Linked DNA regions of Homo sapiens. The protein of the gene in region 3 interacts with the protein of the main gene of each other region in a pairwise test. Each region holds a gene or a part of one and is shown on either strand. Other genes may lie near its edges. The genes, in order: PSTPIP1, COG5 and MEFV.

Region 1 (10,539 bases), on a different chromosome or scaffold from region 3:
TCTCGGCTCACTGCAGCCTCTGCCTCCCAGGTTAAAGTGATTCTCCTGCCTCACCCTCCGAGTAGCGGGGATTACATGTGCCCGCCACTACGCCCAGCTAATTTTGTATTTTTAGTAGAGACAGGGTTTCACCATGTTGGCCAGGCTGGTCTCAAACTCCTGAGCTCAAGTGATCCACCCCTCTCAGCCTCCCAAAGTGCTGGGATTTCAGTTGTGAGCCACCACGTCCAGCCCTCTCTCTCTTTTCTGCATGTTTTGGTTTCATGACACAGGAGAAAGAAGTGGGGATTGGGCTGGCCCCATGAGAGTGAAGGAGGGGAAGCAGGCGGGGAACTCAGGCAGTGGGGTGCTTTCCTGCCTCATCATTGAGAAGGCCTATTTAAAAGAACAAAGCTTTCAAGCCAGACAGACCTTGGTCAAAAGCCAGACGCCCCACAACATTAGAGAGAGTCACCTCTCTTGTCTTCACCTTCCTCATCTTCATGACAGACAGTAGCTGCCTCGTGGTCAGTATTGCTGAGGGCAGGTACCACACTCATGCACAGTGTGTCCTTGTCCAGTGCCTGTGTTGTCCCTTCAGTGGGACCCCTGGGAGTCCCTGGAAGCTCACAGGGCTCTGATGGGGTCCCTGTCAGCCACGGGCCTGTGGGCCTCCCAGCACAGTGGAGCCCAGCCCAGGCATCTCTGGGACTCGGCCAGCTGGGCTGCTCAGGTGAGGGGCCCTGTAAGGCCCGGCAGAGGCCATCAGACTGGGACTCGGAGGAGAACTGTGGCACTCTGGAAACTCATTTCTAATCTCAAGGTCCTGTCAGCCCAGGTGAACAAAGAGTCGCTCATCTGACATTAATGCACATTTGTTCTCTAAAAACTAAAAGTCTGTCTTTGCCTTCTTGGCCCTCTGTCTTCAACACTTACCCTGGGCCATCTCAGACAGCTGTAAGTCATCTTCATCCCATATTTATTTGCTTATACATGGATCGCAGCAGTACTTGAGTCAGGGGACCCCTAGACACCAAGTCCCTAGTTTAACAGGCCATCTGAGGCTTGAGTCCTCTCTGTGGAACCAGACCTGCTTACAGACTGTAGTGATGGGCGCTCCTCACCTGTCAAAGCCCCCCACCCTCTTTCCATACCTACAGCCATTCAGGCTCCTGGGAAGCCTTTCCTTGCATTGTCCTGGAGTTGGCCTCCCTGTCTCTGCCCCCATGAGTCCTGGCTTGGGCTGGGAAATGCCAGCCACTAGTGCTCCCTCTGCTTCTGATGGCCCCACAGAGATCTCCAGGTGAGACTTTTCCTAGGCCATTCCCTCACAGCTTTGGCTTGGAACTCTCCCTTCCCTCCCTATCACCTCCTCCCAAATACTCTGGGTAAGCAACCGCCTTGTTTACTGAGGGCTCTGGCCATCCATCCATCCATCCATCCATCCATCCATCCATCCATCCATCCACCCACCCACCCACCCACCCATTCACCCATCCACCTGTCCATCCATCCATCCGTCCACCCATCTGTCCATCCATCCATCCACCCACTCATCCATCTACCTACCCATCCACTCATCCACCCATCCACCCACCCATCTACCCATCCATGCATCCACCCACTCACCCATCCCTCCATTTGTCCACCTGTCCACCAGTCCACCCATCCACCCACCCACCTATCCACCCATCCATCCATCCACCCACCCACCCATCTACCCATCCACCCATCCATCCACCCACCCATCTACCCATCCACCCATCCATCCACCCACCCATCTACCCATCCACCCATCCATCCACCCACCCATCCATCCATCCTTCCATCCATCCATTCATCCATCCATCCATCCATCAAGTTGTACCTGAGTGTTTGGTCCTTTGCCTGCCTCACTTTGCCAACCAGTAATGGTGGAGAGGAGTCCCACTGTGGGGTACTGACTGTAGGGCGGTGGAAGGAGCCTGGTTGCTACCCATTGACTTAGCATCCCTGTGCCTCTGTTTCCGTATCTATACAATGGGGATGATAATTCCTGTCTCAGAGGACTGTTGTAAGAAGTAGAGGGGACCAGTGTGACTGGCTTCTTTAAAGGTGCTGGGTAATGGGTCATTGAATCTGCAAGCAAATGATCTGGTCCCCTCCATGGGGCACCTCAGGAAGCAGCCGTCATAAGGCCTTGTCCTCTTGAAGGCCTCACTGAGGCGCTTCTCCAGCCCATCACTCAGCATGTCTGTGAGCAGAGCTGTGTGTAGGCACCAGGTGCCGGGATCCAGTGGGGAACCTGAAAGACCCCCCTCTGCCTCCATGGAGCTCAGCCCTTCCTACCTCAGGTTTTCAGTCCACAGAAGACAAGCAACAGGAAACTAGGTGCTAGCAAACCCACAGTGTCAGCCACACTGGCTGCAGATGTCACTGCTGGTGTGAGGGAGGAGAGCACCCCAGCACCATGCAGCTCCGTGCAGCTACCTTCCAAAGCTGCTGCTACGTCTTGCTTCCCCACCTGTGGCCCATGCTGGAGCTTTCCCAGTCATCTTCAGGTGTAACCCAATCCAGTCCAAGCTAGTATCACAATTTCACTCTCATTCAATTTAAAGCTCCCCAGTTCCCCGACTTTCACTGGAAGCCTCTGATGGGGAAAAGAGAACAGGGTCAGTTTCCTCCCTTGCCATGGGGTACCCACACTGCACTGCCAGCTGCCTCTGGGGTCTCCATGGGGGGGTGGTGGGGCACAGGCCGTGACTGTAAAGGGGAGAAACATCTCATTGCCCTGGTACTGTTGTAACTGGTGACAGTGAATGCACACAGGTCAGCCCTTTCTCTCCCTGGCACCTGGGCAGGTTTTTTGGTGACCCTGCCCCCCTGGAGTCCCTGACCACTCCGTTCCCTACAGCCTTCCACTTCCAACCTCTCCCGTTGCACCCAATAGTCTGCTCCACTCAGCTTCTCCTAGGGGCTCCTCTCTCCCTGTCAGGCTATTCTCATGGACAGAATTACCAGGCAGCTCTTCCTGGCTACCTTCCACGGCCCCCACTTGGTTCCCAGGGAAGATTTTGGTGCCAGTTCTTGGACATAGCAGGTAGGAACTCGGACCAAAACCCAGGTGTCCCCCTCCAAGGTTGGAGGCTTAGCTGTCCTCTGATAGATGCTGTATTCTGGAGTGCCAGGCAAGGGAGCATTTGAAAAAGGCTCTGCTCCCCTTTAAATGGAACCTCTGGTGGAGGAAGGTGTGTAGGGCGAGAGGGGAGGTGATGAGGTGACTCATTTCTTCCAGCCTGGCCCCAGCTGAGGGAAGGTGTTTCTGGTCGGGGAGGTGGCAGGCAGGCGGGGAGGGCTCGGGGAGCTGCTGCTTGCTGAACTGCCCCTGGGTGACAGGCCCTGAGTGTGGGGCTTTGCAGAGAGGCAAAGTAATGGGAAGTTAACAGCCAAGATCGTGGCTTGGGATATCTGGGTTATATCCCAGCTGCACCCGGCAGGTCCCTGGGCAGATTGGGTAACCTCTCTGGGTTACCTTTTCCTCATCCATAAAATGGTAGTCATCACCCCTAGCCCAGTATCTGCCTTGTGGTGAGCCCTGATCTTGAGTCCACTGTTCTCACCTATGCGCACGATTTCACTTGCTTCTCGGGTCACCTCTAGGCGGTGAGAACTATTAGGCCCATTTTCACAGGGAAGGAAACAGGCTGAGAAGGGCCAGGGTCACGGGAGGTGTGAACCCACATCTAGTCAGTCAGACCCTTCCCAGCCTCTCAAACAGGCCCGAGTACCCTCTCTGACCTGTGGCCTACACTAACAGGACTGTGCCCTAGAGGGGCGGGCTGTCAGGGCCCGAAAGGGGGTTAGCCTCCTGCCCCCACTTTCCCAATGAGGAAACCAGGTCCTGAGAAGTAAAGTGGCTTGCTTCAGGCCCTGGTGTCTGTGGTCTCGCCCCTGCAGCCACCAAGAGTTATGGGCGTGAAAAGGGGGAAGTGGCGGTAGTTACAGAGGGTGCTTCTCCACTCAAGCCGTGGGGGTGTGGAGGGCCCTGGCCGGCTCACAGGCCTGGGCCGTGGCTCACACCAACACCCACCAGAGAATGAAGCCAGTAGGCTGTCCCTGACAGAACAGGGCACCCAGGCCTTGGCCACACTGCCTCAAGGCAGAGGCAGGAATATGTTTCCTCCCAAGAGCCTCCTCCTGGAGTTCTGGGATGCCGCCTGAGGCCGATGGCCACACACCATGGACGGCGAGGGCTGGGTCCCACATCTGGCTCAAGTGAGCCTCCCAGAGGAAGAGACTGTGCCCGCTCCCCACCTGGCACCCCTAATCCAGGACGGGTTATCCTGGGTGCCACATGGCTGGGCCGTGACCACTGGCTGTTCATGGGTTACCCAGAGCCGCACTCCTCTGACCCAGCCTGGGCCCCAGGCTAGCCTCTGTGAATCCACAGTAACTGAATTATAGCCCAAAATACAGCTTTGATTTGAGGTGGAGATAATTTGAGTAATCATTTTCAAGAGTTATTTTTTCAAATCATGTTTGGATGTTCCAAAATAGAAAATGGTTCCTGGGCTGTCTACTAAATGGCTGATGTAGGTATATGGCTTTGGGGACAGGTTGACCTGCATTCAGATCCCAAACTCTGCCCTTTACCCATTGAGTGGCTTTGGGCAGTCTCTTTCCCTGTTTGGGCCTCCTGTCCCCATCTTCGCCTCCCGAGATCTGTGTTGTGGTCAGGAAGATAACGCTATGATACCCTTGGTGCAGTGTGTGCCAGGTAGACTTGATAAATAGAGATTTCACAAAGGGCAGGGCCACAGGCAGCATTCGGATGACAGAGGTTGGACAGGATGAGGGGAGATGGAGGTAAGAGGAGTGGGGGACAACTAGGGTAGGTCCCCTGGGGGTGATGCTGATGCTGGGTCTTGGGTGGCAGACCCACATGACTGATTAAGTTACAGGATGATTGGTTCATTCATTTCCTAAACACATCCTGAGCCTGACTGTCCCAGCTCAGAGCACGGAGTCAGACCCATGCCCTCGAGGAAGTGGCAGGGGTGGGGGTGAAGGAGGAGGGCGCGGGCTGGGGGAAGGGGTGCAGGGCTGGGAGGCATCGTGAGCAGCCCCTGGAGAGTCAGGCACTTCCTCGGAACATCCCAGTCCTTGTGACAGTAGCTCACTCGGCCACAGCCCCTGCCAGCAGCCCAAAGCTCTGAGCGGGGGACTGGGCGGGATCCTGGAGCCTGCAGCCTCTGGGGACTTGAGCACGGCGGTCACAGCCTGCAGGGCCTCTCGCTGCTTTCTGACTCCTCCCGAATGGCCAGCGTAGGTTCGGTTTGCTTCTCTTTCCACTCTGGGGGCCTCCATAAGGACAGGAGAAGGGTTCCCTTGGCGTCAGGGCTGGGTGTGGGGCTGGGCTCCAGGTGGCCTCTCCAGAGGTATCAGGAAGGAATGACAGGTCCCCTGAGAGTCCGGATTCTTGTCCTGACTCTGCAGCGTCAAGCAAGCCATTTCCTTCTCTGGCCTCAGTTTCCTGAGGAGTGAGGGAAGCCGCACAAGGTGGTTCCCAGTTCTCAGGGCGGGGGGGTCTGTGGCATTCTGACATGAATGCTGGTGTCCCTCCGGGCAGGTGCAGGAGGCTGAGGCCCCAGATTTGTTTTTCTTCCCAGCCGCCAGGAGCTCTGACCTGAGGGTCTGGAGTGAGGGCAGAGGCTGAGGGGTGGGAAGGGGAGGGCTGCTGGCTGCAAGCAGCTGCCCACCAAAACCACAGAAATGGAAGCCTGGTCCAAGCTAACCCAGTGATGTCAACCTGGACATGGGGGTGGGCGCCTGCCTCTGAGGCTGGGGGGACAGCTTCTGGCCTTCCAGGCTAGACACGCTGCTTGTTGCTCTGTGGACAGCTGAGCCTGGACCAGGCCCTCCTCAGGAATTTCTAGGGATGCTTATGGAGGGGGTAGGAGCTTGGGGTCCTAAGTGTCCTACAGGCCAGGAGAGTCCACCTGCTGAGGGTGGGCTGGAGTTTGTGGGGAGGGGGGGCACTGTTGGGGCAATTTATGCCATTGCTACCCCTACTTCAGATTCTTCTTAGACCTTGGAGAATACCTTCTCCTTCCAGCACCTGACTCAAATGCCTCTTCCTGCAGAGAGCTCTCCTGGATTTCGACTCCATCCCTGTTCCCCTCACACCCCTAAGGTGGCATTTGAGGGGAGACATGGGTCAGGGGAAGGAGTACCAGGCTTTACCTGAGTCATGTGTGTGCGACCCTGGAGTGTGCGTGACCTTGGAGACTGTAATGTGTGTGGTCAGGGGAGCTGGGACTTCTTCCTCCAGTCTCTGAGGCTTTAGGGGTCCTCAGGGATAGAAAGGAAGACAGACTAGGTGCGGAATGTCAGGCCTGCCTTGGTGCAGTTGGTGACAAAAATCCTGTCTCCCCAGCACCTCTCAAGCTCCCCTGGAGTAAGCCTGCGTGCAGTGCCTGGGAGAGCTCAGGGGGTTGTGGCGGGGATCCTGGCCCCGGGACCCACTCCCCAAGCCTGGGAATGTCCTGGGAGACCTCTGTTCCTTCATAGTCCTTAAAGACTACCTCCCTCCCCCAACTTCTCACACCCAGCTTCCCACACCAGCAGCTCAGACACACACCTGGAATCCACTGCACAGTGAGAAAGGAGAATTGGGTTGGCCAGGAACAACAGCCAGGGCAAGCAGGGCAAGTGCCAGGCAGCAGAGGGTAGCTGTCCCTGGAGAGTTCTCTGAGGCTCCCCACCCCACCCCAGTCCAGAGGTGAATGTAGGGTGTGCTTGCGCATGCTCTGACCTGGACTGAAGTCACCCTCCATGCCCACCTCCCTGGATCTCCGTGAGGGGGGGTTTCCTGAGCCCACAGAGAGCCCAGCGCAGCATCTGGCACATGGCTGGTGCCCAAGAAACCGCAATTGCTGTGATGGTCATGGAGACTGCACAGTGCTGAGGTGAAGGGCAGGGACCCCAGCCAGACAGCCTGGGGTTCAAGGCCAGGCCAGCCACTTTCCAGCTGGGCCGCTCTGGATACGATCACATGTCACCCTCCTACACCTCGGTTTCCCCACTTAGCTGAGATAGGGATATTGGAAGGGTGGCACTGTGAGTGAGTGAATTTCAGGCCTGGCTGTCATCAGGGGGACTTAAGGGTGGCTCTTCCCATCTGCTATCTCATGCTGATGTGTGTCCTGTCCTGTGAGCTCTCCAGATGCCAGGCCCGGCACCCCCGGCCCTGTCAGCTGGGTGGGGCTCACTTATGTACCTGTCACCTCTGCAGATGTGAGGGGACCTCCTGTGTGCCTGTGTAAAGCCAGGTCTGGAGTCCCAAGAGCTTGCCCTGAGCAGGGGAGATGGAGGCAGGAGGGAGGCTGTTCCCAGAGATGGTGGGAGGGTCCCCACAGGGCTGTGCTCAGTGTCGCCTGGTCGTGGCCCTCATGTGTCCTTCTGTCCTGTGTCACAGTGCAGGGACTTCACAGCCCACACGGGCTACGAGGTGCTGCTGCAGCGGCTTCTGGATGGCAGGAAGATGTGCAAAGACATGGAGGAGCTACTGAGGCAGAGGTGAGCTGCTGGGCAGGCCATGGGGAGCGCAGGCAGGAAGCAGGTGGCTTCCGCTCGGCTCCTGGGACAGTGGACGAGGCCCCCATCCCAGCCAAACTCTGTCAGAACACGCCCTGCTTTAAAAAACTCTTCTGTGTTCCCTCAAACCTGGGCCTCCCCCAGAGGTGGCAAGTCACTGATGATCTTTCAAATGCCCTTTTTTTTGCAGGGCCCAGGCGGAGGAGCGGTACGGGAAGGAGCTGGTGCAGATCGCACGGAAGGCAGGTGGCCAGACGGAGATCAAGTAAGATCTCCCGGGCCCTGGGGCTCACTCCTCTCCTCTGCTGGCAGTTTCTGGGCCTTTAGATGAGGTTTAGGTCTTCCTGGCATGGGGGAGGCTGGGCAGAACCAGGGTAGGTCTGGATTGCTCCTTGGTGCCTGGTTATTGGGCATTCAGGGTGAGGCCAGGTTCTGTGAGGGAGGAAGCCCGAGGGTCTGAGTTCTGGAAAGGGTCTGGGCAGGGGAGACAGGAGGCCATCCATCCTCAGTCATTTGCAGCGCAGTCTGCACCAGCCTGGGTGGCCTCCACTGAAGTCCTGAGGGGCAGGTGACAGGCGTCTCCACTGGTGGCTCAAGTCCCCTGCAGCACTGGCTCAGCATGGGCTTCAAGGATGGAGATGTAGCCAGAGACAGGGGTCCAGGAGGGGACACACCTGGGTTCCGGTGTCAGCTCCTCACCCCCCAGCTGTCTGACCATGGGCTGGCTGCTGACACACTCTGTGGCTCCGTTTCCTCATCAGTGATGGGAAAGTAACGCAGCCCTCCTCAAAGGAAGAAGTGGGCCCATGGGCTTAGCTGAGGCCTGGTTAGAGGGCAGGCCGTCAGGGAAGTGGCTCTGATGAAGCGGGAGTCTCCAGCCCCACAGGTCTCTGCACGCAGACTGCTGGGGTGGGAGGCCAGGTGAGGAGATGAAGGTGAGTTCAGGACACAGCCACCCTAACAGTGGAGTGGAGGGGCTGCTCTGGGAAGGCCCAGACTGTCCCCCTGGGTGAGGACAGAGCCAGGCCAAGGGGCAGACAGACCACCGGCCTCCAACTTCTTGAAAGGGCTCTGCAGAGTCCTCCTGCCGAGGGGCCCTGAGCCTGACCCTGCAGCTGCTGTGGAACCCCTTCCCTTCCTGCCTTCTCCCCCGAGAGAGGAACTGAATGTGCCATACTCTGAAGGTCCCCCAAAGACACCAGGCACCCTGGCGGCTCCTGCTTCCAACCAGGAGCCAGAGATCACAGGAAGGCTTAGATGTGGCATGAGCCGTGTGTGAGGCCAGAAAGTTGCACACAGCCCTGGGAGGACGGAGGGCTCTGAGGAGCCCTTGGAGCTCTGGTCCCGGCTCGGCCAATCTGAGCTGTGGGACTGTGGGCCAGTCGCCTAGCCTCTCCAAGTTTGTTTCTCACCTCCCACTCCAGCGAGCTGCCGTGCAAATCAACAAGAACATGGTCTGAGGGCCTCCCAAGGGAAGGGCTGAGGGCCGGGTGCAGGCTGGGCACAGAGGAGGGCTCAGGACATGGTGAGGAGTGAATGGACGTATGCAGGGAGGTGTTTTCTGCAGGAAGCAGTGCCCAGAGCTCTCAGCCAGGGGAGGAGCAGCTGTGGGGGCCTGGCAGCATGACCAGGGGAGCCCCTCCTGGTCTCCTGGCCTCCCAGCCTCCAGGCCAGCTGGAAGAGAACTTTCCCAGAAAGAGAGGGTACCTCATGGGGAGAACTCAGAGACTCAGGAGAGGTGGAGAGGGTGGCCCCAGCAGGGCACAATGGGAGCCAGGCTGGAGTGGGTCTGTGTGATGCAGGCTCAGGGGATTGTGAGTCACAGGGGATTTACAGCAGGGAAAGAGAAGCTACCCACAGAAAATACAATGGGGGTGGGGAGCAGGGTGGGCCTCAGGAAGCAGGAGGTACGCAACATCTTGCTCCATTTGTAGAACTAGGAAGGGGCCAGGTGGAGGCTCTGGGCGGCCCTGATTGCGCCATGGTTATTCAAGGCCAGGTGGGGCAGGGTCTGCCCTGACTTATCCTTTGTGTGGCCCTGGATGGTCCTCCCTGTCTCTGAGTCCAGGGTCTGTACCTATGGAAGGGGATGGTCACTTGGAGAGGTGTTCTGGGCAGTCACAAGGACAAGCAGAGAGTGCCAAGCCACAGGGGTTCACTGCACACAGTGGGGCTCCATAGTGTTGCTCTTGACCCATGTGGCATGAAGTACTGTTGATGAGGCCATGCAGCTGTTCCTTTCGGTGTAGGCCAAGCATCCATCCTCCATCCATTTAGTCACCATTTAATTGAGGACCTACTATGTGCCATGCCCTGGATGGGTCAGGAGGATTCACTAATTTAAAATAAAATAAAGGGCTTTGCCATTCCTTAGCCAGAGTCCAGCACAGTGAGGGTGACTTCCTTCTCCTTCCTAGTCCTTTGCATTAGGGCCCATTTATGCGCCACCTCCTCCAGGAAGCCCTCCCAGACACCTTGCCTTGCCTTACTGTCAGAGTCTTGGCTTAGACCCAATTACCCCTCCCCATGCCAACCTGAAGGGCTTTTGGTGGGGAAGTGTGAGCAGTGGCCGTGGACCTGTTTCCTCATCTTAGACTCCTGTGGGGGGGGGGGGTGTGTGTGTTGGCCCTCAGGAAAGGTGACCCGGCTCTTCAACATCGGGGCTGGTGGCCCACCCTCCAGGGCCCATCCCTGAGTAGGGGAAGCCCCTGGCCTCCCTGAGGCCCACAGCTGCCCCCCAGGTCTATGGGATGCTCATTCCCTGCCCCTTGCAGAACGGGCAGGGGACTGGGGGATGGGAAGGCTAGGAACAGGGTGCAGAACGAGGACAAAAGCCAGGTGGTTAAGTGACCCTATAAATAGCCTAGTGAGCCCTGAGGGCAGAACTGCTGCCTGAAGGTACTGCATTTCTGCAGTCCCCTGACCTCAAACCAGCCGGGAGCCACCCTCAGGCCTGGAGGCTCGGGCCACTGAAATTAACAGGAG
Region 2 (11,304 bases), on a different chromosome or scaffold from region 3:
CCTGGACTTCCATGCCTGCCAGCAGTAATGAAGCACTCTTCTCCCTCCCTGCTTGGTGTGGTGTCAGAGGAGGCATAGTGGAGAGCCAGGACTTTCATTATTGCCCAGCACATATGAGGCTACCCTCACTATGGGGAACTGGAACTCTCATCACTGCCCCGCAGTAATGAGGAGCTCCTCACCCACCAGATGTCGAAGGAGGCCAAGTGGAGAACTTGGATTTCTATCAGATAGCAATGAGGTGGCACCACTCCCCTACATCATTCCCTGCTGGAGTGTTGTCAGAAAAAGCCGGTTAAAACAGAAGGTGCAATAGTCAAAATCAATTAATGTAATCCATCATATTAACAGGCTAAATAATAAAAATCACATGATCATATAGATGCAGAAAAGGCATTTGACAAAATACACTCATACATAGTTAAAAAAAAAAAAAGCTAACTCTTGGAAAACCAGAAGTAGAGGGAACCTGCCTCAGTTTGATAAAGTATATCCACAAAATTCCTACAGAACACTTTTGCCTTAGGAACAAGGTAAGGAAGTCTGCTCTTATCACCCTTATTCAACACGGCGCTGAAACTTCTAGTCAGTGCAATAAGGCATGATAAAGAAACAAAAGGCATATGATCAAAAGGAAGAAATCCAACTGTCCTTATTTGTAGATGACATGGTTGTTCATATAGACTCTGAAGGAATTTACAAAAAAACTAGAACCAACAAGTGAGTTTAGCAAGTTTTCAGGATATAAGATCAACATACAAAAATCTATTTCTATGTGCTAGCAATAAACATGTGAACACCAAAAATTAAAAATTCTATTTACAAACATGCTCAAAACCTGGGTGTCTTACAAAACATGTGCAGAACTTGTATGCTGAAAACTACACAATACTGATGATAGAAATCAAAGAAAATCTCAATCAATGGAAAGATATACTGTGTTCATGGATTGGGAGACTCAACCTAGTAAGAAAGTCAGTTCTTCCCAAGTTGAGGTATAGGTTTCACACAGTTCTTATGAAAATTCCAGCAGGGTTTTTTGCAGAGATAGACAAGGTCATTCTAAAATTTATTTGTAAAGCAAGGGAACTAGAATAGCTAAAACAATTTTGAAAAAGTAAATAAATTGGGAAGAACCAGTCTACCTGATTTCAAGACATATTATAGAGCTATATAGTAAAACTGTGTGGTATTGGTGGGGAAAAAGATACAAGATCAATGGAACAAAACAGAAAATGCTGATTTCTCACAAAGAAGCAAAGAATTAGCGGAGAGATAGCCTTTCTTTTTTTATTATTATTTTTGAGACGGAGTTTTACTCTTGTTGCCCAGGCTGGAGTGCAGTGGTGCGATCTTGGCTCACTGCAACCTTCACCTCCCAGGTTCAAGCGATTTTCCTGCCTCAGCCTCCCAGCAGCTGGGACTATTGGCATGCGCCACCACGCTGACTAATTTTTGTATTTTTAGTAGAGATGGGGTTTCACCATGTTGGCCAGGCTGGTCTCGAACTCCTGACCTCAAATGATCTGCCCACCTCGGCCTCCCAAAGTGCTGGGATTAGGATTTGATGGCGTGAGCCACTGTGCCTGGCTGATAGCCTTTCAAAAATGATGCTGGAGTAATTGGACATCCATAGGCAACCTAACCTAAGCCTCACACTTACATAAAAGTTAATGCAAAATTGATCATGGACTTAAATGCAAAACATAAAACTATAAAACTTTTAGGGAAAAAAACTTAGGAGAAAATATTCAGGATCTGGAGCTACATAAAGGTTTCTTATACTTGACATCGAAAGCACAATTTACAAAAGGAAAAATTGATGTTAGACTTCATTAAAATGAAACTTTTGTTCTGCAAAAGATCCTGTTAGGAGCATGAAAGACAAGCCATATACAGGGAGAAAATACGTGCAAATCACACATCTGACAAAGCAGAATATATATCTAGAGTATAATAGAAAACAAGAAAACAAACAAATGGACAAAAGCACTTGAATAGATACTTCTACAAAGACAACATACAAATGGCCAATAAACACACAAAAAGATGTTCAGCATCATTAATCATTAGGGAAATGCAAATTAAAACTGCAATGAGATACCACTTCACACCCATTAGGATGATTATAATAATAAAATAAAAACTCCCAGAACATAACAAGTGTTGATGAGGATGTGGAGAAATTAAAACTCTTGTTCACTGCTGGTGGTAAGGTAACATGGTGCAGCTGCTATGGAAAGCAGTACAGTAGTTGCTCAAAAAATTAAACATAGAATCACCATATGATCCAGCAATTCTACATCTGGGTACATAGTCAAAAAGAATTGAAAGCAGGGTCTCAGAGACCTGTTACGAACCATGGGTATTTGTATATGGGTATTTGTACACCCATAGTTCATGACAGTATTATTTGCAGTAGCCAAAAGGTGGAAGTTATCTTGTGTTCTATCAATATATGAATGGATATCAACAGATGAATGAACAAAATATACATAAAATGGAATATTATTCAGCCTTAAAAAGGAACAAGTCTGATATATGCTACAACATGAATGAACCTTGAGGATGTTATGCTGCATAAAATATTAGCAAAATAAATCCAGTTCTGAACAAATACGTATAAGACTTATATGAGGTACCTAGAGTAGTGAAGTTCATAGAGGGAGAAAGTAGAATAATGGTTGCCAGGGGCTGCTGTGAGGAACAGTGGAATGGGGAGTCACAGTTTAATGTGATAGAATTTCCATCTTCTAAGATGAAAAGAGTTTTAGAGATCAGATGCACAACAATGTGAATGTAATTAACACTGCTGAACTGTATACTTAAAAATGATCGAGAGGTAAATTTTATGTTACGTATATTTTATAACAAACTTCTAAAAAAACTCAATAGTAAAAGAGCAAACAATCCAATTAGAAGATGAGCAAAAGATACGAAGAAATATTTCTTCGAAAACTGAACACACAACTACCTTAGGACCCATAATTGCACTCCTATTTGTCCCAAGACTTAAGTTCACATAAAAATCTATACATCAATACTTATATCTATTTAATATCCATTATATACTTATAGGTAGGAGTTACAACCACCACCATTTTTATAGATATAAAAAGTGCAGCTCAGAGAAGTTAATTGTTTACTCAGGATCACATATATACTAGGCAAGTAGTAGCATCATGACTCAATTCTAAGTCATGATTCCAAAGCTAAGAGTTTGAAGTTCCCATATGGTGGGTGGTCTTACAGTACTTTTAAAAAGTCAGAGCATAAAAGGGAAATTTCATCTTAGTTCATTAATCATTTTGCAACACTTACTTTGAATATCGAACCATTGGGGCACAGACTTTTACCAGCTGTCCAGAATGAAACATTTCTATGGGATCTTTTTTTCTTTCCTGACATATTGTCGTTTGCATGCAGTCACTCTTCATTAATACAGATATGTTTCAAATCTGAAAAAGACAATAAGCTTGTATAGAGAAAATATGTTTTCACTATATTAATTCCATTCTAACAATTTCAACTGCCAACAACATATATTTTTTATCAGGCTTGTGGGCTCAGAAATTTTTTTATTAATAGCTTATTTTCACAGTATCCAATATGATACTATAGAATGCTGCCTCTATTTGTAAGATAAATAGATGTGGAAAACTACCCAAGATAGTTGTGGAAACACAAGATGCAGAAAACGAGATTTTTTTTTTTTCCCTAGTTTACCATGTTGTAAGTTTTCATGTTATTTAAAAATTTTTTACATGTTACTTTGTTGGGATTGGTAAGCCAAGAAATTTGGTTTGAATTATTTTATATATGATACTCGACTGGCATTTGGAAATATCTTGTTTTATTCAGGAAAGTTAAATGGCATTAATAGAGCAACTCTTAAGTAGTCAGTGTTTCAAAAGATATGCTGGTGCTTTTATTGTAATTCTTGAATCCTGTTCTGTCTGTGAATCAGAAGATAAACAAACGTTAATTATTTTTAAAAATTTTAATGTGATATTATCTAGTGAAAATTTCAATTATAATTCTACAATTGCATTGTAAATCACTTTTATACCCCAAGAGGTACAGGTACGAGTGATGAAATTATGGAGTTTGTAAATGTTTTACATTTGCTATACTTAAAATCCTACTATTTCACAGTGTTGGCTACTTTTCATATTCCAGTCCTTGGCCTCAGTAACTTAGAAACAGGTATGTATGAAGGAAAAATGAAGCAGAAAATAACAACAACAAAAAAAAGAATCAGATATGGGCCAACTTTAGAATGGTCTAATTGCTCAAACTTTAGAGTCTTTAACCTTTAGGCAAGGAGTTGAAATTAAAAATAGCCAAGGTACTTAAGGATGTCAGGATCTTGCAAGAAACCGCTGGAAGCACCAATATTTAAGTAACAGAGGAAAAGGGGAGAGCAAAAGAGACTGAAGATGAACTTTGGAGCTGGGAGGAATAAACCTAAAGAGTGATACTCAGAAAACGAGAGAGACCATTATGAAGGAAGGAGGGGATAGGTATCTTAAACATCAAAGTAAGGCAAAAATAAAGCGCAATGGCAACAAGGTCATTAGTGATTTTAGCAAGAATTACTTCATTTTTATCCACTCCTGCAGTCATAGTAAATGGCATACAGAAGGCCTCAATATTTATTTGCTGAAAGAATAAATCAGTAGGTTTCAGGGGACTGGGCTCACACCTGTAAACTCAGCATTTTGGGAGGCCAAGGTGGGAGGCTTGCTTAAGGCCAGGAGTTTGAGACCAGCTTGGGCAATATAGTGAGACCCCCATCTCTAAAAAAATTATAAAAATCAGCTGGGCGTGGTAGCAAGCGACTGTGATCCCAACTACTCCAGAAGCTTGGGCAGGAGGATCCCTTGAGCCCAGGAGGTTGAGGCTGCAGTGAGCCACGATCCTGCCACTGCACTCCAGCCTGGGTAACAGAGCTAGACCCCAACTCAACAAAACAAAACAATCAGTAGCTTTCTACCTTAGTTGTACACTACAATGACCCGAGGAGCTTTTAAGAATTAGCATGCCCAAGCCATACCCTAGACCAATTAAATCCAAACGTCTGGGCTCAGGATGCAGGCATCAGTGTTTTTATTAAAGCTCTTCAGGTGATTTCAATGTGCAGCTAAGCTTGGAATTACTGGAATAAGTAAATCCAAAGATTCCAAAGCACCTGGTACAATTGTTTGTTTAAATGGGTTCCTACCTTACCTATTAACTCCTTTTAGAATATGGATTGAGTCTTATGTTTGTAAACTCATGAGAGCATGCAGAGTAGAGGGGTCAAAACTTTCGCTGTATGAATGAATATTACTCACTCTTCTAAAATCTTCCACTGGGGGGAATAAAGCCAAGGAAGGAAAAACAATTCCTAATTCACAAGTAATGAATGAATCACCCCTATTCCCATCATGACTAAGATCTTACATACTAGGGAAAATCCTCTGAGACAAAGAGAGCATAATGCAGTGTAGCATAAGACTTGCTTACCTGAGGTGTTATGAGTATGAAATGCATTGAGTTATAAAATACTTAGAACAGCGATAAGCACAGGATAAGTAATAGCACCTTTTTGAAACAGAATGTAGAAAACCACGTAGCTCTGGAACTGGATAAAATTGGTTTCCTGGATACATACCTACTGTACAAAATGAAAAAGTCATCTTCCAGCTTCTTTTTGCGAAGAAGCTTAAGACTGTCTTGCATACTTGTGGTTGCCTGACCCTGTTAATTTATCAGTATTTATCTTAGAAGAAAGAAATCTAGGTCAAAAACGCGAACGTATTAGTAAAGAAGATACAATGGGAACCAACCTGATGCTCTTACAGCGTCAATACTGTTAGTTGAGATGTGGACCATCTATCAGTTTGTAATTAAGAAAAAGTCTGGCACGTGACTGAAACTGAGGAAGAAGTAGAAAAGGCAAAAGGTCAAAGGTCTCATGGGAAGGAAGGAGGGTAGAGACAGTGAGTTTTATTGGTCCTTTTATGGTTCAGACTTCCTTCTTCATCGACTCTCCCTAATTCTCTTCACTGTTCATCCCCAGCAACTTTTCTTCCCAAGCATTTCCTGCGGGCTTTTATTACCCCAGGAGTGCCAATCAAGGCGTGGAACAGATAAAGCTGTGTAGCAACTAACGCGTGACTCTTGTGAGTGTGGAGGGCAAACGAAGCTCCCTGAAACCTCCGCTCTGCTCTCCTGCCTTACGCCGCGCGGCCCCTGTTCTGAGGTTTAATACTTGCTTCACAGATAAGCGCTGCGGCCACGTTCCGGTGCCCACCTTCTCCTTGGCTAGGGCACGACGCCAGCCCAGGGGGCGCGGCCCTGAGCTGCTGCGAGAGACAGCTGAAAGCGCCGGCCCGACGGCCTTGGCTCCCTCGGTGCGCTGGGCGCAGAGCACTCGGACCCTGGGCGCCCACTGCTCGAGTACCTGCGCGGCTCCTAGCCAGGCTTAGCCCAGGCGCGGGCTGAGAGTCAGTTCGCCAGGTGGGCCTGGAGCCATGGGCTGGGTGGGCGGGCGGCGCCGGGATTCTGCGTCACCACCTGGGCGGAGCCGTTCTGCTGCTGACGACATCAACCCGGCACCTGCCAACATGGAAGGTGGCGGCGGCAGCGTCGCTGTAGCTGGCCTCGGAGCTCGAGGCTCTGGAGCGGCTGCAGCTACAGTCCGGGAACTTCTGCAGGACGGTAAGGAGACGGGGTCTGACCAGGTCGTGGGGTTGGGGGTCTGCGCTGCTCCGCACCTGGACAGCGAGGTGGACCCAACCCGTTGCTTTGCAGAAAGTTTTCCAGTCTGGACGTGACCACTCCCCTCCGCCCGGCCCCCTGGCTTGGGTACTGTTCTAGCCAACCTATTTACTCTGGGACTGGCTCCCTCTTTTCTGGAGTCTTGGGGACACTTGGTTTCTGTGTGTTCCTCATTTCAACTCGACCCCCCCCCCCCCCATGCCTCCAGCTTCCCTGAAGTTTCGGGAGCCCAAACCCTGTGGACCGCGTTGGCAGCCACCGGCTGCTGCCGCAGTTCTTGACGAAGGGGTGTAGCGTTCGAGCTCTTCAAAAGTGTAAGCTCTAGAACAGACGGCAGACGCATAATGAAATAGGGCCTTGTTTTAAAGTAGAGCTGGAAACGCTTACTCCTTTAACAAATGGACTGTACAGGTGACCCCTCTTACAGGCTGGTTTTTTTTTTCCTCCTTTATGAGGCAGTTATCTACAGTGACACGTGGGGGAGGGTTTGAGACATTTGTTCAGGTTGGGATTAACCATTTGTACAGAATCTAGCAGTCAGATTTTATTGCTAGTCAGTTTGGAGAGAAGTTGCCCAAAATAAGAAAAGTTAGATATAATATACTTGAAAAGCATATTCAGTTGTGTCAATCCAGTTACCATGTCCCGAATCTCTTATCCTTCAGAATAAAGTTCACATTTATAAGCATAAAAATAAAGCCCTTCTCACCTGTTCTTAATTTTTTCTCTAGTGGCCATCGCATTCTACCTTGTACTAAAATCATTTGTATACTTGTTTTAATCTCTTCTGTATTGCAAACTTTTTTTAATATCCCACAGTGTGAATAGCAGTATCTTGCATACAGTAGGTGCAGAATGTTTTTTAAATTCATCATCGCAGTTAGAAGCACATGCACACATTTGAAGACCGAAGTGGGTAATAAATGAAATAAAGTTCCAAATTATTGTTTATTTTCTCTGACTGTTAAATATTTTATTGTCATCCTGAATTACGTGCCTTTTCATGATAATTTATGTACTTTTGTCAAAAGCAATGATGTTTTCTGAACTATTTCATGTTGGAAACTCTAGGACCGGGTCTCTGTCTAAAACTTGGCTAAACTGAATTTAAACTTTAGATACAAGGCAGAGACCCTGATATATTTGCAGTTGCTCCTGATACACGTGCAATTTTTGCCCTCAAGTAGTTCACCATCTAGTAGAGGAAATAATCTTGTAGACTATAAAGGTAGGTGCTGTAATATAGTGATGTAAGATAGCAGTAGGATTGCATATAAAGTAGAGCATTAATACAGAGGAGAATGATAACTGGGGGTTGGAAACTGGTTAGGAAATGTCAGAAAAGGCTTTCTAGGTGGAGACGTTTTAAACTGTAGACAGGACTTCCCCAGGTGAACAGTGGAACATTGGATATATGTTTCAGTAGGATGTATTTCAGGAATTGTAATCAGTTCTTGGACGGTAAATACTCTTCAGTTCTGCCTTCTGTATTTTCCTCCTTGGTTCTCTGCCATTCTCCACAGTGATTGTTTAAATCTTCTTTACCCTTTTCAAACCTTTCGCTTCAAGCTCAACAAATGACTTTAAGCTTCCCTGGGGAGAAAAAGAGGATCCATCAGATGTGAACTTTCTCCATTTCTTGCCCATCAAACCTATGAATTTAACCTCAACGTATAACCATCTGTTGCACCTTTTTTCCCTTGCCTTTTCAATTGCAACGGAAGTGGAGCCTCTGCTCCTTTCTTTCTTTCTTTCTTTTTTTTTTTTGAGACGGAGTCTCGCGCTGTTGCCCAGGCTGGAGTGCAGTGGCGCAGTCTCGGCTCACTGCAAGCTCTGCCTCCGGGGTTCACGCCATTCTCCTGGCTCAGCCTCCTGAGAAGCTGGGACTACAAGCGCCCATCACTATGCCTAGCTAATTTTTTGTATTTTTAGTAGAGACGGGGTTTCACCGTGTTAGCCAGGATGGTCTCGATCTCCTGACCTCGTGATCTGCCTGCCTTGGCCTCCCAGAGTGCTGGGATTACAGGCGTGAGCCACCACGCCCGGCCGAGTCTCTGCTCCGTTCTAAGGATAGTGCCTCCTACTTTGCTCTGGATTTTTTCTTCCTGTTTCCTGGGGACTCAGTCACCCTCAATCTATGCCATTGAAGTAACTTTGCAAGGTTTTCAATGACTTTCTTGCACATACGACAAATGGACACTTTTTTGGTCCTTTAACTTGTAATAACATTTGATTCCTTTCTTGAAATACTTTCCTCATGCGGTTTATGGGTGCCGTGCTTTTTAAAAATTCTTAATTCTCTAGGTGCTCTTTTCCAGGTTCCTGTAGATACTTGTCAGTTCAGTTTGTTCTGAATTAAGCGGTCTCTGTTGCCCCTCCACCCCCAACATTCCTGAGGAATTAAGCATTTCCAGCAGAAACTTTGATTCACTATATCGGGGATTTGGCCAATGACAGAGTATCGGATTGATAGGCTTGGTGAGCACAGATGCATAGTATGAAAATTGGTGAGGTGTTTCTGATATGCCCTCTATGGGAATGAGGAAACTATAAAAGAGAAGCATTATATAATTCATCTCTTTAAAGGCTGTCAGCCCTCAAATGCCACATCCCGTTGTGTTTGATCTTTGTAAGCTCTATGACAATACTAATACTTACTTTCTTTATCCCTTCTTTTGGCTTTTGCCATTCTTTTTTGTTTCTCTTTCTCCCTGAGCACTCTTTAGTCTCTTTGATTGCTTTCATTTTCTCTGTCCACCCCCCACTTTCCTATCTTCCTCATTTTCCTGCCTTTTTGTGCATTCTAAAACTTTTTTTTCCTAAATCATCTGGTCTTGTCTGTGGTTTCAGTATGCTCCTTACCTGTCTTCTGAATTATAAAACTATATTTTTAACTGCCTACTGGACATTTCTATCTTAATTTTTTTATGATATGCCATTCCATAACCTGTATGGACATTTCTATTTTGATAGTAAACAAGCAGTGCTAGTTCTATAATACACATGAAAACCTACATATGAACAAATAGTACAAGGTTTACATATGAAAAAATGAAATGAATTCACTTTTTCTGTTCTTCTCTCCTAATCTTTTCCTCTGGTAGTTTCTGTTATCTGTGTTTACTATGTTGTTAGGTAAATGTGTGCTTGTTCCCCTTGTAAATTATGAATTCCTTGGAGGCAGAAGTTTATGTTCATCTTGGTATATTCAGTGTCTAGTGGTCTAAGTTAGTGTAAAACTAAATTTCCTGTATCAGTTGCTTAATCCAGAAATTTGGGAATCCTTGTTTGTTCTACCTAATCACCCATTTTCAGCTTGTCACTAAGTCCTACATCCTGTGCAGTGTGAATATTTGTCAAATTTGTCACTTTGACATTCTTAGTGCCACTTATTCAGGTCTTAGTCGGGCCTTCATTATGTCTTAGGCTGTTAACATAGTACTTTACTGGCCTCTGTGGTTCTATTTCTTGGGTGTATTGGTTAATTGGCTTTGTGGGAAAATAGAAAAAGCCCTGATTTTTGTAGTGTTTGCTGATTACCATGGTGTAAATACTCTCACCATCGTAGATTTTAAGATATCTGTGTGAAAGGTCAACTGGCTCACAGAATTCCTGAAAATGTAACAGTCTGTGCTCAAGAGCCAATAAGAGGCAACTTCAGCACATTGCTGTGTGACTAATCCTTTTTCCATCATCCTCTATACAGCTGCCAGGATTATTGTTCTGTAACATAAAGCTGATAGTGCAATTTCTTGGGTTAAATGAGATATGGTTAAACATTTCAAATGTCTTACAAACCTCTTTTCAAACTGCGCTCCAACCTTTGGAACCACATCTGTCATTCTTTACCATTTCTGTCCAATATACATGTGCTATGATTTAGACACACTGAAATCAGTATTCCCCTTGTTTCTCAAAATATGCCATGGCATTTGCCACTGCTAAACCTTCCCTTTGCTTGGAATGGCTTTTTTCATTTGTCTGGCTGACAGGACTCTTAATTCTGAGAAGCACTTGGCAAATCAGAAGGAAATGTGGTTCTCAGACTTAAAAGCAGCCAAAGTAGCAGTTTCCTTCTTTCATTCCACTACATTTTAAGAATAATCAAGAGTATGAGCCTTTACTTTTTGTTGTTGGTTGTTACCAGAATGATACTAATGATACATCAGCTGATGTATAGATTAGTTAATTCATGGAACCTGCCATGTGTCTGGTATTGTTCAGACACTGGAGAAGAGTTAGCAAACAAAACAAAGACCTTCTTCCCCTCTTGGAGCATACATTATAGCAGATGTAGACAATTTAGGTTTTCTTAAAAGTACTCTATTTTGTTTGTTTCATAATCTCTCTCAAGGCAGCTTTACTTGTATCTACTGTATCATTAGGAGATTTGGTACATGGTTACCATGAGCTCCCTTCTGGGTATCTATTTTTAGCTTTCAATTCTCTTAATTTTTCTTTCATCCACATATTTGTGGATTTCTATATTGAGGGGTATCTTTTTAACATCTGGTATTACTTCTGTTTTCTGTCTATTAG
Region 3 (10,539 bases):
GCTCCACAGGGCAGCCATTCAGGGTAAGCGGGCCCAGGCCTCCTCCTCATCCAGTGCTGAGTGCTGGCTGCTTTGTGGGAAAGGGGACCAGGAGCTCAGAGCAGCTCACTCTGACCTGGGGATTGGGAGTCTCAGGTCTACCAAAATCCAGATGACTTTAGTTCAGGAACGTCCCTTTCTTCACTCTGGCCTTTGGAACTGGGTTAGTAAACTTCCTTCAGGCTCCTAATGGGTTTTTTAAGAAGCAGGTCAGGGTCACGAAAGGCAGGAGCTGGAACACCTGTTCTTTGAGACTTCTTCACTACATTTATGATTAATACTCATGTCAGACAAACATCTCTAGGTTAGCAAAAAGGGATTGCTATGCAATCATATGAACGGGGTTGGTATAGAATCTTCTCAGTGCTGTTCACCATGTTGGCCAGGCTGGTCTCGAACTCCTGACCTCAAGTGATCCTCCCGCCTCAGCCTCCCAAAGTGCTGGGATTTCAGACATAGGCCACCGTGCCCGGCTTATTTTTATTTTTAAAGCGTATAATCTGGGTTTTGCTGACCTGTGTAAGATCTTATTTGAAACAGTTGTCCTGCTTAAAACGTTTGAAAAGTACTATTTGAGAAATATAGGCTAGGCATGGTGGCTCACACTTATAAATAATCTCAGCACTTTGGGAGGCTAAGGTGGGTGGATTGCTAGAGCTCAGGAGTTTGAGACCAGCTTGGGCAACATGGTGAAACCCTGTCTCTACCAAAAATACAAAAAAATGAGCCAGGCGTGGTAGCACACACCTGTATTTTCAGCTATTGAAAAAACAGAAAACAGGCTGAGGTGAGAGGATTGCTTGAGCCTGGGAGGCAGAGGTTGCAGTGAGCTGAGATCACATCAGGGCAACAGAGCAAGATCCTGTCTCAAAAAATAAAATAAGAGAGAGAGAAATACATAGCAACATCAAGCATGTTCTTACTGAATGGTAATTGACTGCCATTGTCTAGTCTAGGAAGTCCTGAACTTTTGTTTTTGAGATGGAGTCTTGCTCTGTCACTCAGGCTGGAGTGCAGTGGCCCGATCTCAGCTCACTGCAACCTCCACATCCCGGGCTCAAGCGATTCTCATGCCTCAGCCTCCCGAGTAGCTGGGACTACAGGTGCGCACCACCGCGTCTGGCTGAGTTTCTTATTTTTAGTAGGAACGGGGTTTTGCCATGTTGGCCAGGCTGGTCTCGAACTCCTGACCTCAAATGATCCTCCCACCTTGGCCTCTGGAGAAGCTGGGATTACAGGCATGCGCCACCACGCTCAGCTTATTTTTGTATTTTTAGTAGAGACGGGGTTTCACCCTGTTGGTCTTGAACTCCTGATCTCAGGTGATCCTCCCGCCTCGGCCTCCCAGAGTGCCGGGAATACAGGCATGAGCCACCGCGCCCGGCCCGTTGTTTTCCTCAATTTCTAAACTTTAATATCCAAGGGGATTCTCTCTCCTCTGCCCTGAATCTTGGGCCCTAAACGTGGGACAGCTTCATCATTTTGCATCTGGTTGTCCTTCCAGAATATTCCACACAAGAAAACGGCACAGATGATTCCGCAGCGTCCAGCTCCCTGGGGGAGAACAAGCCCAGGAGCCTGAAGACTCCAGACCACCCCGAGGGGAACGAGGGGAACGGCCCTCGGCCGTACGGGGGCGGAGCTGCCAGCCTGCGGTGCAGCCAGCCCGAGGCCGGGAGGGGGCTGTCGAGGAAGCCCCTGAGCAAACGCAGAGAGAAGGCCTCGGAGGGCCTGGACGCGCAGGGCAAGCCTCGGACCCGGAGCCCGGCCCTGCCGGGCGGGAGAAGCCCCGGCCCCTGCAGGGCGCTAGAGGGGGGCCAGGCCGAGGTCCGGCTGCGCAGAAACGCCAGCTCCGCGGGGAGGCTGCAGGGGCTGGCGGGGGGCGCCCCGGGGCAGAAGGAGTGCAGGCCCTTCGAAGTGTACCTGCCCTCGGGAAAGATGCGACCTAGAAGCCTTGAGGTCACCATTTCTACAGGGGAGAAGGCGCCCGCAAATCCAGAAATTCTCCTGACTCTAGAGGAAAAGACAGCTGCGAATCTGGACTCGGCAACAGAACCCCGGGCAAGGCCCACTCCGGATGGAGGGGCATCTGCGGACCTGAAGGAAGGCCCTGGAAATCCAGAACATTCGGTCACCGGTAAATTGTGTTCTTTCCTACTTTATATCGGCTGCAGAGAAAGAATGGCTGGCCGGGCACGATAGCTCATGCCTGTAATCCCAGCGCTTTGGGAGGCCAGGGCGGGAGGATTGCTGGAGGCCAAGACTTTGAGACCAGCCTGGTGAATGTAGTGAGACCCCCGCCATCTCTATAAACGAAATTAAAAAAATAAAAACCCAAAGGTTGGGCAGGGCGTGGTAGCTCTCGCCTGTAATCCCAGAGCTTTGAGAGGCCTGCACGGGAGGATCTCTTGACCCCAGGAGTTCCATACTAGCCTAGGCAACACAGTGAGACCCCATCTCTACAAAATACAATAGTGGCACGCGCCTGTAGTCCCAGCTGCTCGGGTTCACTTGAGCAGACGGAGTTCCAGGCTACAGTGAGCTGAGATCATGCCACTGCACACCAGCCTGAGCAACGTAGCCAGACTCCACTTCTACAAAACTAAAAAAAAAATTAGCTGGGTATGGTGGCACACGCCTGTAATTCTAGCCACTCAGGAAGCTGAGGCAGGAGGATTGCTTGAGCCAGGGAGTTCCAGGCTGCAGTGAGCTGAGGATGTGCCACTGCACTCCGGCCTGGGCAACAGAGCAAGACCCTGTCTCTTAAACATTTTGGGGGGAAAAAAAAAGAAAGAAAGAATGTCCGATTGAAAAAGGCAATCAGGTGTTATCAGTGGCCAAAGAATGGAGAAGGGGAGCTCACCTCTGCAGGCGTCTGCTTGCCAGGGATGGGAGGCAGGGCGATTTTAGAGTCCAGGGAGGGGAAGGGAGATAGGTAAGCAGGCCCAGGGCAGGGTTCCATATGTGCAGGCGCTGTCCCCAGCATGCTTCTTCCTACATCGCATGGACACAAAACCCTGGCCATCTTCTTTTAGGGGAGGGACCTTTAGCCTTATAACAATGTGTAAATGATCTTAAGGTAACTGGAAGTCACCTCTTCCAGTTTGCACTGGTTTTGCTCTGATCTTAACTTCCTCTGGTTTTTGGCAAGGGATCAGGAGGCTCCAGGCCATCTGGATTTTTTTAAGCAGCTGTCCCTATAGGTAAAGAGACTAAAAAAAAACTGTAAAAGAAAAATGCCACCAGTTTAGAGGGTACCGAGGCTATCCAGGTGACAATTCCATGCTCGTGGTGGGGGCAGCATTCAGAAACACACTTTCCTTTTTTTTTTTTTTTTTTTTTTTTGAGACAGAGTCTCAGTCTGTCTCCCATGCTGGAGTGCAGTAGTGTGAGCACAGTTTACTGCAGCCTCAACCTCCTAGGCTCAAGCGATCCTCCCACCTCAGCCTTCCAAGTAGCTGAGACTATAGGTGCTCACCACCACACCTGGTTAATTTTTTTTTTTTTTTTTGTATTTTTTGTAGTTACGAGGACTGTCTATGTTGCCCAGGCTGGTTTTGAACTCTTGGGCTCAAGCGATCCCCCGCCTTAGCCTCTAAAAGTGCTAGGATTTCAGGTGTGAGTCACTACACCCAGCCTATGGAACACACTTTCCAATGCATTGTTGGCTGGAGAGGAGAAATCACAGCACTCAAGGAGGAGAAATAGAATTGGGGGTCCAGGCCGGGTGCGGTGGCTCATACCTGTAATCCCAGCACTTTGGGAGGCCAATGGGGGCGGATCACCTGAGGTGAGGAGTTCGAGACCAGCCTGCCAACATGGTGAAACGCCATCTCTACTAAAAATACTAAATTTGCTGGGCGTGGTGGCGGGTGTCCATAATCCCAGCTACTCAGAAGGCTTCGAGGCAGGAGAATTGCTTGAACCGAGGAGGCAGAGGTTGCAGTGAGCCAAGATCATGCCACTGCACTCTAGCCTGGGCGACAAGAGCAAAACTCTGTCTCAAAAAAAAAAAAAAAAAAGAATTGGGAGTCCAGGGACCCCTGAGACCTGGGAGGGGAAAGGATGTGGTATGCTGCATGAGTCTTCAAATCCAGAAGTCCCTGGGTCTTCCAGTGAGAAAGGACCCTGGGATCTGGAAAACCTAGCATCCTTAGGAATAGTGACCTGAAAAGTACTGAAGTATTTCCCCCCTAATTTTCTTTTATCCCTACTGTATTTTTTTTAATTTTTTTTTTTTTTTAGATATGGGGTCTTGCTATGTTGCCCAGGTTGGTCTCGAACTCCTGATCTCAAACAATCCTCCCATCTTTGCCTCCGAAACTGCTGGGATTACAGGTGTGCACCACTGCACCAGGTCCCCACTGTATTTATATCATTGGGATTCCTGGGTGTCTTCTAGGGCCGCTTCGTTAATCTGATGCAGGCTTAGACCCTGAAAAATGCATATATGCACAGCTTCACAAATGTCACATCAAATTTCAGGTAGTTCTTGGACACTCTGAAGACCATCTTTAGAATCCAAGGGGTTTATGGACACCAGGTAGAAAATCTGGGGAAGACTGGTTAAAAATACTCCCTCTCACAATAACCTCACAGCAATGCATCATCATGGGGTTGAGATTCTACCATTTGCCTTTCTCTCAGCAGAAAGAAAAGCCTATTGGCTAAAGTCCTAACTATCTACTGCTGAGGTAGTCATTAAAATTATGTTTGGTTGTGAATAATAGAAACACCCAAATAACAGTAACCTCAACAGAAAAGAAGTTTGTGCCTCCTTCACATAAATGATACACAGGCGGTCCCAGGCAGATCCGTGGGCCAGGACCCTGGGGTCCTGCTGTTGCTCTGTCCCACCAAGTTTGTCCTCAAGCTTCTGCTCTCAGAAGGTGACGTCCTCATGCCAGGCAGCAAGATGGAGGAACAGAGGGGAATAGTATCCCTCGGGAAAGCTCTAGAAGTTTCTAGAAGCTGCTTGTGACACCTCCATTTACATCCCTTTGGTCATATTATTGTCAAATAGCCACACCTAACTGCAAAGGAGGCTGAGAAATGCAGGGCATTTGGGGGGCAATGGGAGGCAGGGAAACAGGGAAACGTGGACAATTAATTCTATCACGAGAGAAGGAGGGAGAATAATTTCTGGTGACTACTAGCAGTCTCATTTACAGATGTGCTGTGAATTTCTGGGACACTGTGAGGTGGGAGGAGGTAGCAGGGGCTAAAGGATTGAGTGTGTTTCTATTTCTTTTTTTTTTTTTTTTTTTTTTTGAGATGGAGTCTCTCTTGGTCACCCAGACTGGAGTGCAGTGGCGCAACTTCAGCTCACTGCAAACTCCGCCTCCCGGGTTCAAGCAATTCTCCTGCCTCAGCCTCCCGAGTAGCTGGGATTACAGGTGCCCACCACCACGTCCGGCTAATTTTTGTATTTTTAGTAGAGACAGGGTTTCACCATCTTGGCCAGGCTGGTCTTGAACTCCTGACCTCATGACCCACCCGCCTCGGCCTCCCAAAGTGCTGGGATTACAGGCGTGAGCCACTGCGCTCGGCCTTGTGTTTCTATTTCTTCTTGTATCTCGTGGCATGTCTGCTTATGAAGTTGCAATTAGAGTCTTGGAGTAGAGCTATTCATAACTGTTAGGTCTTCATGATGAGTTCCAGTCTTTAGCCCTATAATGCCCCCCTTCTTTGCTTTTTCTTTTAAGATGGCATCTTACTCTGTTGCCCAGGCTGGAGTGCAGTGGTGCAGCATCAACCTCCTAGGTTCAAGCAATCCTCCTGTCTCAGCCTCCCAAGTAGCTGGGATTAGAGGTGTGCACCACCACACCTGGCTAATTTTTTAATTTTTTGTAGAGGTGGGCTCTTGCCATGTTGCCCAGGCTGGTCTCAAACTCCTGAGCTTAAGCAGTCCTCCCACCTTGGCCTCCCAAAGCACTGGGATTATAGGCATGAGCCACCACCCAGCCCCTTCTTTGCTTTCATTTAATGGTTATTGAACTCATATGTGAGCAGTGGTCTATTTATTCCTTCATTCAATACTCATTTTCCAAATGCTTGCATTTGCCAGGTACTCTGCTAGGGGCTGGGATCCAGCTAGGAGCGAGGTACACAAGTCACCATCCCCTGGAAGCCTCCACTCACGTTATGGGCAGCCAGGGATGGGTTCAAGTGGCAAAGGAACACTGGTCAGAATGTCTCTTTCCTTGGCATCACCTGCTAGATCTATGTCTGTGCAGGAGGAACAGCACAAGGCCATGGGTCTTTCTTTAGGATAAATGCCCAAGAATTCCAAGGCTCAGGAATGTCTGAGGTCTGGCCCTTAGCTCTCAGGCCCAGTGGCCTGTTTGCTTCCTCACTGGATGGAAGTCGGGGGAGGACAAGCTAGGAAGTGGGCAGAGTCTAACTGAGAACTCGCACATCTCAGGCAAGGGCTGTGTCCGCTGTGCTTTGTGATACCTCTGTGTAAGCAACTTGGGTTTGCCATTCAGGGGGTTTTTCCACTGCATGTCCCCAGGAAGGCCACCAGACACGGCTGCGAGTCCCCGCTGCCACGCCCAGGAAGGAGACCCAGTTGACGGTACCTGTGTGCGTGATTCCTGCAGCTTCCCCGAGGCAGTTTCTGGGCACCCCCAGGCCTCAGGCAGCCGCTCACCTGGCTGCCCCCGGTGCCAGGACTCCCATGAAAGGAAGAGCCCGGGAAGCCTAAGCCCCCAGCCCCTGCCACAGTGTAAGCGCCACCTGAAGCAGGTCCAGCTGCTCTTCTGTGAGGATCACGATGAGCCCATCTGCCTCATCTGCAGTCTGAGTCAGGAGCACCAAGGCCACCGGGTGCGCCCCATTGAGGAGGTCGCCCTGGAACACAAGGTAGGCACTCCCTGCCTGTGGGCTCTTCTCTGCCAGGCACTTGGACACACTGGGCCTTACTTCATTTTCCCAACAACTCTGGGTTGTTGGTGCATTAACCAGCATTCTTGGGCTGGAAATGGCAAGAACACAATATAAACCAGTCCAGCAAAGAGGGGAGCTACAGGTTTATGTTGCTCAGAGATCCAGGGGGAGCTGGCTTCAGGTATGGCTGAATCCAGAGGCTCAGAGGAAGTGCCTCTCAGCTCTGCTGCCTTTGGCAATTCAGCCATTCCTCCCTCCTCTTTCCTGAGCACCCCTCCCCATGCCGCTGGCAGCAGCACCCTCAGCCTTGCTACCAGAAGGAGATGTTCCCCTCCAGAGTTGGCACCAGCTAAAGATGGCAGGAGCCAAATTCAAGCTTTTCAACAAGTGCTGTTTTTCCAGAAGAAAATTCAGAAGCAGCTGGAGCATCTGAAGAAGCTGAGAAAATCAGGGGAGGAGCAGCGATCCTATGGGGAGGAGAAGGCAGTGAGCTTTCTGGTAAGGTCAGAGGTGGCTGATGGCCCATCCGTCCCTGGGAGGAAGGTGGGAAGAGTGAGCAGGGGTCCCCGAGATTCTGCTGTGGTTCACAGGGCAGCAGGGATGGCCACCTCCTCTCAGGGGACAGAGGGTAACCAGCAGCCAAGGGTAAGCTCATCCCTGTAGAGGGAGACCACCCCCAGCAGGCAGGGGTCACCTCTGAGGATCCTGTCATGCTTTCTCATACTCACCAGAAGATGGTAGAGAGCAACCTATGCCGGTGACTACTGCAGAAAGATGGGATTGAGGAAAAGGGAGGAGAACGCCACTTTCTTTTTTTGTGACGGAGTCTCGCTCTGTCACCCAGGTTGTAGTGCAGTGGTGTGATCTTGGCTCACTGCAACCTCTGCCTCCCGGGTTCAAGCGATTCTCCTGCCTCAGCCTCCTGAGTAGCTGGGATTATAGGTGAGTGCCACCATGCCTGGCTAATTTTTGTAGTTTTAGTAGAGATGGGGTTTCACCATGTTGGTCAGGCTGTTCTCGAACTCCTGAACTCGTGATCCGCCCGCCTTGGCCTCCCAAAGTACTGGGATTACAGATGTGAGCCACTGCGCCCGGCCAAGAACACTTTTAACTTCATAATTTACTCTCTGTTTTTTTGTTTTGTTTCCAAGATGGAGTCTCGCTCTGTCACCCAGGCTGGAGTACAGTGGCACGATCTTGGCTTGCTCCAACCTCCACCTCCGAGGTTCAAGCAATTCTCCTGCCTCAGCCTCCTTAGTGGCTGGAATTACAGGCGCCTGCCACCGCGCCTGGCTAATTTTTGTATTTTTAGTAGAGACGGGATTTCACCGTGTTGGCCAGGCTGGTCTCAAACTCCTGACCTCAGGTGATCCACCTGCCTCGGCCTCCCAAAGTGCTGGGATTACAGGTGTGAGCCATCGTGCCTGGGCTGGTTTTTTTGTTTTTTAGGGTTTTTTTTTTTTTTTTTTTTTGAGATGGAATCTCACTCCGTCGTCCAGGCTGGGGTGCAGTGGTGCAATCTCGGCTCACTGCAAACCTTCGCCTCCCCAGTTGAAGCAATTCTCCTGCCTCAGCCTCCCGAGTTGCTGGGACTGTAGGCACATGCCACCACTCCTGGCTAATTTTTGTATTTTTAGTAAAGACAGAGTTTCCCCATGTTGGCCAGGCTGGTCTCGAACTCCTGATCTCAAGTGATCTGCCCAACTCAGCCTCCCAAAGTGCTGGGATTACAGACATGAGCCAATGCACCCAGCCCAAATTTCCCCATTTTATAAGACAACATTTATATTGGATTAGGGACCCACCCAATCCCAGTAGGACCACATCTTAACTAATTACATCTGCAAGAACTCTTATCTCCAAATAAGATCACATGCTGAGTACTGGGGGTTAGGGCTTCAACGTGTAAATTTTGGAAGGGACACAGTTAAACCTTAACACCAGGTTTAAGGACATTTTCCCAGAGCTAGCCCCAGCCATGCTCAGTCTTTTCTGGAAGGTTCCAGACAATATCGCCTCCTGCTCTGGAATCTAGGCCTTGAAGAGGCAGCATAAGCCCACCTCTTATCCACCTCCAGGAGGTGGGCTTCTGGGGGTTCCTGGACATCCACGTCCACCCACAGCACAGACCCCCATACCTCCCTGTCCTCTGCTCCCCAGAAACAAACTGAAGCGCTGAAGCAGCGGGTGCAGAGGAAGCTGGAGCAGGTGTACTACTTCCTGGAGCAGCAAGAGCATTTCTTTGTGGCCTCACTGGAGGACGTGGGCCAGATGGTTGGGCAGATCAGGAAGGCATATGACACCCGCGTATCCCAGGACATCGCCCTGCTCGATGCGCTGATTGGGGAACTGGAGGCCAAGGAGTGCCAGTCAGAATGGGAACTTCTGCAGGTGGGTGTGCCTGGGCCCGGCTTTCTTGGGTCCCCTGTGCCTATCAGGATGCCTCAGGCTCCCAGCTCTGCCATCAGCCGTGCTGGAACAAGTGGGTGAAGCCCCTAAGGCCTAGGATAGGACTTGGTCTTGGTGACCCACAGTGCCTCTTGTGCCCAGACCCCTTTGATGAGGTCTCTCAGGAGCCCAGGGTGGCCTGGTATCCAGGGGATCTCTGCCATTTCCCAGAAGGGATCAGCAGGGCTTGAGGGCCGTTCCATTGCAGGCCTCGCCACCTGGGATGCCTGAATTCCCGTGGTTAGAATTAGACTTGAAGAAAGGTGCTCCACTTCCACTGACACCCTAGGGCAGGGAGCCCTGGTAAGTGCAGCGGGGAGCTAAAAGTCCAGGAGCCCAGAAGTAGAGGCCAGGAGTCAGCCCAGCCACTAGGAGCCTGGTAACCGACAGTTTCCTTCTTTTTTCTCCTAGGACATTGGAGACATCTTGCACAGGTACAGCGAGGTCCTGTGGTGTACCCTGGGGTGTCTTGCAGAAAGCATATGGGGGAGACAGTCCCAGAAGGGACCTGGGAGGGAGATGTTCCCAACCCCGGGGTCTGTGATTCCAGACTCCTCCTTTTTTCTGCAGCTTCCCAAAGCCTCTCTGGATTTGATAGGGAGAAGGGCATCTGGTCAGCAGGGAGGCTGGCCGGGTATGGAGCTGCAGACTGGGAAGGGTGAATTCAGCCCATCCTGCTGAAACAAGATGGAGGCTCCCTAAGAAACCTTCCGAGTGCATTGTGTCCCGTGCAGTTCATCTGATGAAAGCTGCCCCTTCAGGCCTACTGGTGGCCTTGGGAAGCTTGTTTGGAGTGGAGCTGGGCTAAGCCCAGCAGGAAGGGGAGGGGAGGGAAGGGACAGGAAGAGGCTAAGCCTTAAAATCACCTGGGAGCTTTACAAAATCCCGGTGTCCTTTTGTGTCTGGCTTCTTCACTTAGCATAATGTCTTCGGGCTTCATCCGTGTTGTAACGTGTATCAGAATTTATTTTCTTTTTATGGCTGAATCATAGTCCAGTGTGTGTTCATACATTTTGCTTATCCATTCATGGATATCGGGACTTCTTCTAACTTTTGGTTTGTGAATAATGTTGCTATGAACAAGGGTGTACAAATATCTGCTTGAGACCCTGCTTTGTTATTTTGGGTACCTACCCAGAAGTGGAACTGCGGGACCATGTGGTT

Evidence for each region.
Region 1: the proteins of MEFV (region 3) and PSTPIP1 interact in binary tests that used the Homo sapiens proteins (3 or more experiments, as listed by UniProt).
Region 2: the proteins of MEFV (region 3) and COG5 interact in a two-hybrid assay, tested with the Homo sapiens proteins (one study listed by BioGRID).

Annotation. Positions count from the first base shown.
Region 1 is NC_000015.10:77,010,713-77,021,251, forward strand, and holds part of PSTPIP1 (proline-serine-threonine phosphatase-interacting protein 1), read left to right. Parts: intron 1-7,435; coding exon 7,436-7,536; intron 7,537-7,744; coding exon 7,745-7,819; intron 7,820-10,539. UniProt on the Homo sapiens protein: Involved in regulation of the actin cytoskeleton. May regulate WAS actin-bundling activity. Bridges the interaction between ABL1 and PTPN18 leading to ABL1 dephosphorylation.
Region 2 is NC_000007.14:107,559,204-107,570,507, reverse strand, and holds the start of COG5 (conserved oligomeric Golgi complex subunit 5), read left to right. Parts: upstream 1-6,587; 5' UTR 6,588-6,611; coding exon 6,612-6,705; intron 6,706-11,304. Other genes in the region: DUS4L (tRNA-dihydrouridine(20a/20b) synthase [NAD(P)+]-like), read right to left, coding at 3,322-3,437; DUS4L-BCAP29 protein, read right to left, coding at 3,322-3,437.
Region 3 is NC_000016.10:3,245,795-3,256,333, reverse strand, and holds part of MEFV (pyrin), read left to right. Parts: coding exon 1-23; intron 24-1,543; coding exon 1,544-2,176; intron 2,177-6,553; coding exon 6,554-6,903; intron 6,904-7,329; coding exon 7,330-7,425; intron 7,426-9,087; coding exon 9,088-9,318; intron 9,319-9,786; coding exon 9,787-9,809; intron 9,810-10,539. UniProt on the Homo sapiens protein: Involved in the regulation of innate immunity and the inflammatory response in response to IFNG/IFN-gamma.